Homo sapiens: one gene and its partner. The protein of the gene in region 2 purifies or fractionates together with the protein of the main gene of each other region. This does not show direct contact. Each region holds a gene or a part of one and is shown on either strand. Other genes may lie near its edges.

Evidence for each region. The genes of interacting proteins can lie anywhere in the genome.
Region 1: the proteins of ABHD17A (region 2) and DYNLT2B purify together in Homo sapiens (affinity purification with mass spectrometry; 3 studies listed by BioGRID and IntAct, with this or other methods). This does not show direct contact.

The regions. Positions count from the first base shown.
Region 1 is NC_000003.12:196,297,628-196,301,373, forward strand, and holds part of DYNLT2B (dynein light chain Tctex-type protein 2B), read right to left. Parts: intron 1-3,746. UniProt on the Homo sapiens protein: Acts as one of several non-catalytic accessory components of the cytoplasmic dynein 2 complex (dynein-2 complex), a motor protein complex that drives the movement of cargos along microtubules within cilia and flagella in concert with the intraflagellar transport (IFT) system.
Region 2 is NC_000019.10:1,883,523-1,887,268, reverse strand, and holds the start of ABHD17A (alpha/beta hydrolase domain-containing protein 17A), read left to right. Parts: upstream 1-1,772; 5' UTR 1,773-1,917; intron 1,918-3,746. UniProt on the Homo sapiens protein: Hydrolyzes fatty acids from S-acylated cysteine residues in proteins. Has depalmitoylating activity towards NRAS. Has depalmitoylating activity towards DLG4/PSD95. May have depalmitoylating activity towards MAP6.

The DNA of each region.
Region 1 (3,746 bases), on a different chromosome or scaffold from region 2:
GCACTTACTTTGTGCCATTCACTAGTCTAAGTGTTTTACGTGTATTAACTCACTGAATCCTATGAGGTACTATAATTTTACCCATTTAGTGAATGTGACAAATGAGGATTAGAGAAATTAAGTGTACAAGGTCATACAACTAGGTAACAAAGCTTGGCTTTGCACCCAGGCAGTTCACAACCCATACCCACAGAGAAACATACACATATACCTTATATTATATTGGTTCTTTTTTTTCCTGAAACAAAAGGTCTCACATATTTATTACTGAACCCAGCCTACTATCGCAGGGCATATAAGCAAAGAGAAAAAATATATTCCCAATAAAACACGTCCAACTGTTCAGACAGTGGTGACGTTTTCAGCTTGCTATAGTAAGATGGCCGTGACCTTGATACAGCGTGAATATGTGTGCCAGCTCACGTGCAGTTCCTTATAGACCCAGCTTGGCTGTTCTGCAATGTCTCCTTTCCAGTTGTGCCTGATTTTATTACCAGTTTTCAACCAGATCCACTGGAGAATGGGACGATTTGGCTTTTGTTTCTTGGCCAGGAATCGCTTACTCTTAAAAGACTTGTGAGAAGACATGACAAGAAGCAGAATCAAGCACACACCACAAGAGAGAGTTGTTTGTTTTTTGAGACAAAAATATAAAATAGTGAGACCCCAATTGTTTTATTTATTTATATTTTATTTTTATTTTTTGAGAGGGAGTCTCACTCTGTCAACCAGGCTAGAGTGCAGTGGCACAATCTCAGCTCACTACAACCTCCACCTCCCGGGTTCAATGATTCTCCTGCCTCAGCCTTCCGAGTAGCTGGGACTACACACGTGCATTACCACGCCTGGCTAATTTTTATATTTTTTGTAGAGACAGGGTTTCACCATGTGGGCCAGGCTGGTCTCAAACTCCTGAGCTCAAGCAATCGGCCCACCTCAGCCTCCCAAAGTGCTGGGATTACAGGTGTGACTTGGAAAAAGTGTAATGGTACAGTTTGTAGCAGGCTAATAATGCTCCCACCAAGAACAGTAAGAAAAGCTGGATAAAATGAATCAGGGAGCTGCCAAAGCAAACAGGCCTAGAGGAGCCAAAATTCCAGAAAGAGGTGAACTCTAGGAGGTAAGCTGATATTCCGCAGCAGATTTTTTTCCTGGAGGATTTGCCAATTCAGGGCACAGGGCTAGATGCTGAGAATCTGGGCCTTGCTCAGGTAAAGAACAAATTACTGAGGGAAAATTTAACTAGTAGGAGAGTTGGCAGTCTTTACTTTTTAAAATTTTTTTATTTATTAATTTTACTTTGAGACAGAGTCTTGCTCTGTCACCCAGGCTGGAGTGCAGTGGCACGATCTCAGCTCACTGCAACCTCTGCCTCCCCAGGCCAAGCACTTCTCATGTCTCAGCCTCCCGAGTAGCTGGGATAACAGGCATGCACCACCATGCCTGGCTAATTTTTTTTTTTCTTTTTTTTTTTTGAGATGGAGTTTCACTCTGTTGCCCAGGCTGGAGTGCAGTGGCACAATCTTGGCTCACTGCAACCACAACCTCCCGGGTTGAAGCAATTATCCTACCTCAGCCTCCCAAGTAGCTGGGACTACAGGCACCCACCACCACGCCCGGCTAATTTTTGTATTTTTAGTAGAGACGGGGTTTCACCATGTTGGGCAGGCTGGTCTCGAATTCTTGACCTCAAGTGATCCACCGGCCTCGGCCTCCCAAAGTGCTGGGATTACAGGCATGAGCCACTGTGCTTGGCCCTAATTTTTTGTATTTTTGGTAGAGACGGGGTTTCACCATATTGCCCAGGTTGGTCTCCAACTCCTGAGCTCAGGCAATCTGCCCGCCTTGGCCTTCGAAAGTGGTAGGATTACAGGAGTGAGCCACTGTGCCCAGCAGAGTCGGCAGTCTTAACAAAGCTAAGGAGGTAAAATCAGATTCTGGAGGGAAGATCCCATAAAAAAGGAGAAAGTAGAACTGAGCGTATCACATGGTAGGTTTTCTTTTCAAGACATGCTGAATTCAGGCCGGGCACAGTGGCTCGCGCCTGTAATCCCAGCACTTTGGGAGGCTGAGGCAGGCGGATCACGAGGTCAGGAGATCGAGACCATCCTGGCTAACGTGGTGAAACCCCGTCTCTACTAAAAATACAAAAAATTAGCCGGGTGTGGTGGCGGGCGCCTGTAGTCCCAGCTACTCGGGAGGCTGAGGCAGGAGAATGGCGTGAACCCAGGAGGCGGAGCTTGCAGTGAGCCGAGATGGCACCACTGCACTCCAGCCTGGGCAACAGAGTGAGACTCTTTCTCAAAAATAGAATAAAATAAAATAAAGTAACTAGTATGACTAAATCACAAGGGTCCTTACAAAAGAAAGAGGGAGTAGGTGGGTCAGAGTCAGAGAGTTGAAGATGCTGTGCTGCTGGCTTTGAAATTGGAGGAAACGGCTTATGGGCTAAGGAGTTCAGGGGCCTCTAACTGGAACAGACGAGGAAATGGATTCAGTCTTAGAGCCTCCAGAAGGAATGCAGCCCTGCTGACATCTTCATTTTAGTTCAATGAAACCCATTTTGGATTTCTGATCTCCAGAACTGTAAAGTAATATATTTGTGCCATTTTCAGCACTGAGTTTGTGATAATTTGTTACGGCAGCAACAGGAAACTAGTACACTAAGGAAAAAGCCTCTGACATGAAGAGCAAAGTTTTATGCTGAGGAGACAAGATCTGAAAGTCAGCACCTGTTGGAGGTAGAGGCCTGCAGAGGCCTAATGAACATTCGAGGTTCTTGGTTGAAAGACTTGGAGGGCTACAATTAAGAAACAAGGGGGCCAGGCACAGTGGCTCACGCCCATAATCCCAGCAGTTTGGGAGGCCAAAGTGGGTGGATCACCTGAGGTCAGGAGTTTGAGACCAGCCTGGCCAACATGGTGAAACCCCATCTCTACTGAAATACAGAAATTAGCCGGGCGTGGTGGCGTGCGTCTCTAATCCCGGTTACTCAGGAGGCTGAGGCAGGAGAATCACTTGAACCCGGGAGGCTGAGGTTGTGGTGAGCCAAGATCATGCCATTGCACTCCAGCCTGGGCAACAAGAATGAAACTCTGTCTCCAAAAAAAAAAAAAAAAAAAAAATAGAAACAAGGGTGAGGCTGGGTGTGGTGGCTCACACCTATAATCCTAGCACTTGGGCACTTGGGGAGGCCAAGGCAGGAGAATCACTTGAGCCAAGGACTTCAAGACCAGCCTGGGCAACATGGTGAAACCCCATCTCAACAAAAACATACAAAAATTAGTTGGGCGTGGTGGCTCATGCCTACGGTCCCAGCTACTTGGGAGGCTGAAGCAGGAGGATCACTTGAGCCCAGGAGCCAGAGGTTGCAGTGAGCTGAGATCGCACCACTGCACTCCAGCCTGGGCAACAGAGTTGAGACTCTGTCTCAAAAAAGAAAAAAAAAAGGGATGAATTTAAGATAGGGCCTTTTTAAAACCACAACTCTCAGATGAGTTGGCACAAGAAAAGAAAATTTTTTAAAAAGATAAAACTGTAACCCAACCTCAATTCAGCTCAGTACCTGAAGCTAAGCGGCCAATACTCTTCCTGCACAGCAGAAGAGAGAGTTAAGTCCTTTCTGGAAGAAAATAATATCATCTGGAGGTCTATAATTCTTTTAAGCAATATCTAAGATTCAAACTAGGCATGCCAAGAGACAAAGCCATATACATGATTATCAAGAAAAATACAATGGAAACAAA
Region 2 (3,746 bases):
TCTTTTCTTTACTTTTTTTTTTTTTGAGGCAGAGTCTTGCTCTGTCGCCCAGGCTGGAGTGCAGTGGCGTGGAGTAGCTGAGATTACAGGTGCGCGCCACAACAGCCGGCTAATTTTTGTATTTTTAGTAGAGATGGGGTTTCACCATGTTGGCCAGGGTGGCCTAATTTTTGTATTTTTAGTAGAGACAGGATTTCACCATGTTGGCCAGGCTGAACTCCTAACTTCAGGTGATCTGCCTGCCTCGTTCTCCCAAAGTGCTGAGATTACAGGCGTGAGCCACTAGGCCCTGCCATAATGCAATTTTTTTTTTTTTTGAGACGGAGTCTCGCTCTGTCGCCCAGTCTGGAGTGCAGTGGCGCGGTCTCAGCTCACTGCAAGCTCTGCCTCCTGGGTTCACGCCGTTCTCCTGCCTCAGCCTCCCGAGTAGCTGGGACTACAGGCGCCCGCCACCACGCCCGGCTATCTTTTTGTATTTTTAGTAGAGATGAGGTTTCACCGTGTTAGCCAGGATGGTCTTGATCTCCTAACCTCATGATCTGCCCGACTCGGCCTCCCAAAGTGCTGGGATTATAGGCGTGAGCCACCGCGCCCAGCCCATAATGAAATTTTTTTAAGAGACAGGATCTTGCTCTCTCGCCCAGGCTGGAATGCAGTGGAGTGATCATAGTTTTATTTATTTATTTATTTATTTATTTATTTATTTATTTATTTATCTGAGACAGTCTTCTTGCTCTGTCACTTGGGCTGGAGCACAGTGGCCCGATCTTGGCTCACTGCAACCTTCGCCTCCCGGGTTCAAGCGATTCTCCTGCCTCAGCCTCCGGAGTAGCTGGGACTACAGGCGCGTGCCACCATGCCCGGCTAATATTTGTATTTTTAGTAGAGACAGGGTTTCACCACGTTGGTCAGGCTTGGTCTCAAACTCCTGACTTCAGGTGATCTACCTGTTTCAGTCTCCCAAAGTGCTGGGATTACAGGCATGAGCCACCGTGCCCGGCCTAATGTAATATTTTAAAAACTAATGCAAAAGAATTTCTGATGAGCAATATATAAAGACTTTAAATAAGCTGGTCATGGTGGCTTGTGCCTATAGTCCTAGCTACTCAGGAGGCTGAAGTAGGAGGTTCACTTGATCCTGGGAGGTCGAGGCTGCAGTGAGCTATGATGGCACCAGCCTGGGTGACAGAGTAGACTCTATGTTAAAAAAAAGAGGCCAGGTGCGGTGGCTGATGCCTGTAATCCCAACACTTTGGGAGGCTGAGGCAGGAGGATTCTGGGGTCAGGAGTTCGAGGCCACACTGGCCAACATGGGGAAACCCCGTCTCTACTGAAAACACAAAAATTAGCTGGGCATGGTGGTGGGCGCCGGTAATCCCAGCTACTCAGGAGGCTGAGGCAGGAGAATCGCTTGATCCCAGGAGGCAGAAGTTGCAGTGAGCTGAGATCGCGCCATTGTACTCCAGCCTGGGCGACAGAGCGCGACTCCATCTCATAAAGAAAAATATTTTAAAACATTTCTAAATGTTGATGTCTGAGTTTTTTTTGGCGTCCCTGTAAATTTTGTTTTCCAGGCGAGAACTTTACTGGCCTCAACCTATTCCGGGTCCCCAAGTGAATGAAACCTAAGTTTGGCCCCGCCCACAGAGCAGCAGGCCACGCCCCTCGACATATCAGCCCCGCCCCCAGGACGCTAGTCGCGCGGTCGCTCTGTGCCTGCAGACCCCCGCCCCGCGCGCTCCTCGCGTCACTTCCGGGGCGGTGGTGAGAACGAGGCTCACTTCCGTCCGTGGGGGGAGCTGCGGCGGTGGCGGTGCAGGAGGCCGGGCAGGGGTGCGGAGGGACCGACGGACGCACGGGCGGGCGGCCGGGAGCCATGGAGCGCGGCCCTGGGGCCCGGGGGCGCGGGCCGGGGTGGTGAGTGCCGGGCAGGGGCGGGGGCGGGCGCGGCCGCGCGGGGTCCCGGGCCGGGCCTCGAGGGCCTGACAGCCCGGTTGGACGTCCCCGAGACCCCTGCAGTCCCAGGGCTTCCGCGGGTCCTGCCCGAGGAGCCCAGAGCAGGGGCGCGGACCGCGGATGAGCGTCTGTGATTGGGAAAGCCCTGTCCCCATCCATTCAGCCCTCCGGCGTGGGTTGCGCTCCCACCCTCCTGCGGACGCGGCCCTTGCCTTCGGGGAGCACCCGTCCGAGCCGCGGATTCCGCTCTTTTGCCCCGAAACTGCCCCCAGTCCGACAAACGCTTCGGCCTCTCGCCCCCCAAGGCAGCTCCCAGGGGCCCTCCCGAGCCCTGCTTCCCAACCAGCTCCCAGTCGCTGTTTCCCTTGTCAGGCTTCTTCCTGCCACCCTGACTCCTGGGCGGGCTTCCCGGCCTCCGCTCGCGTCCGTTCTCCGGGATGCAGCCCTTCTCCTATGTTGTCCATCGCTTGCTCGGGACTTCTTCGCGGCCCCGCCATTTCTCCCAGGATGAAGTGCAAACTCTCGGGGGCGCGACCTCACCCGTCCCAGGCTCTCTCTTAGGACCCTTCTGCTCACTTCTTCCTCCCAGGGTCTGCTCTAGCCAGGAGCCTGCTCTGTCACCTCGGATTTTGCTCCTGCTTGTCCCTCTGTCCCATCCCCCTGTCACCTGGCCCGTTTGTCTGCCCTCTGATATGGCCGCGCCTCCCCCCAGGCGGGTTTCCCACCCTGACTGGTTGAGTGAGGTGCAGTCACCGTCTCCCATATGTAGGTCATCTTCCAGTATTTTGGCTGCTCGGTTGCTTGCTGGTCCTCAGAACACCTCTAGCTTGCAGAGGGTTGCCCAGTTAAGTGCGTGGGAACGGAATTGGTGGGATTCAGGGTGTCAAGGGTGTGTGCCCAGTGAGTGAGGCGTCTGGGTTTGCACTCCCCAGTCCACGCCCATTAGTGACACTAGGGAGGTTCCAGGTACCTGTGGCTGGAGAGGAGAGGAGACTAGACTTTCCCTTCCCTGTCAAAGCTGGCGGACCTTGGGGATTCTTTTCCTCCTGTGCTTCCTCCTTAATTCTGTGCTGCCTACCACCTGCCCATTCCTTTAGTGAGTGGCAGGTCATGGTCCTGCTCTCATAGAGTTTCTGGTTTGGAGGTGGGGGGAGATCTGGCCAAACGTGTGAAAAATACAAGCTGTGGAAAGAGCGTGTAAGGGGTCCTGTCCCAGCTTTGAGGACTCTGAGAGCGTTGGCAGTGAGGTGCAAAGGGTGGTTGGGTTGGGCAAGGCTGTCTAGTGAGGTTGGGGAAGGGAGTTCCTGGCAGAGGAGCAGAGGCAGGAAGGGGCAATTTGGCTTGTCTTGAGGGAGCCAGGAGTGGCAGGGTGTGAGATGAGTGAGTCTGGAGAGGTCGGCCTGAGCCGGAATGCGGACCTGGCAGGCTGTGGGGAGGGCTTTGATCTCTATCCAGGGAATAATGGGAGGCCCCCAGGACACCCCAAGAGGGAAGCGGCTCCATTGCATTTGTGTCGTGAAAGATTGTTTGGCTGCTGGGGGAGAATGTCCTGGAGCAGGTGATCAGCAAGGAGGGAGGCTGTTGCTGTGGCTCTGGTGAAAGGTGATGGAGGCAGGGACCGGGCGGTGGCTGATGGGAGACAGGCAGAGCCACCGGGCTGGTGATGGACCGGCTCAGATCCAGTGGGTGGAAGGAGGTGTCAAGGATAACATCTTTGTTTCTGGCCTGGATAGTGGGGCCCTGGCCACCTCGGTGTGCCCCTTCGTCTCCGGGGTCTCCAGGGGCCTGCT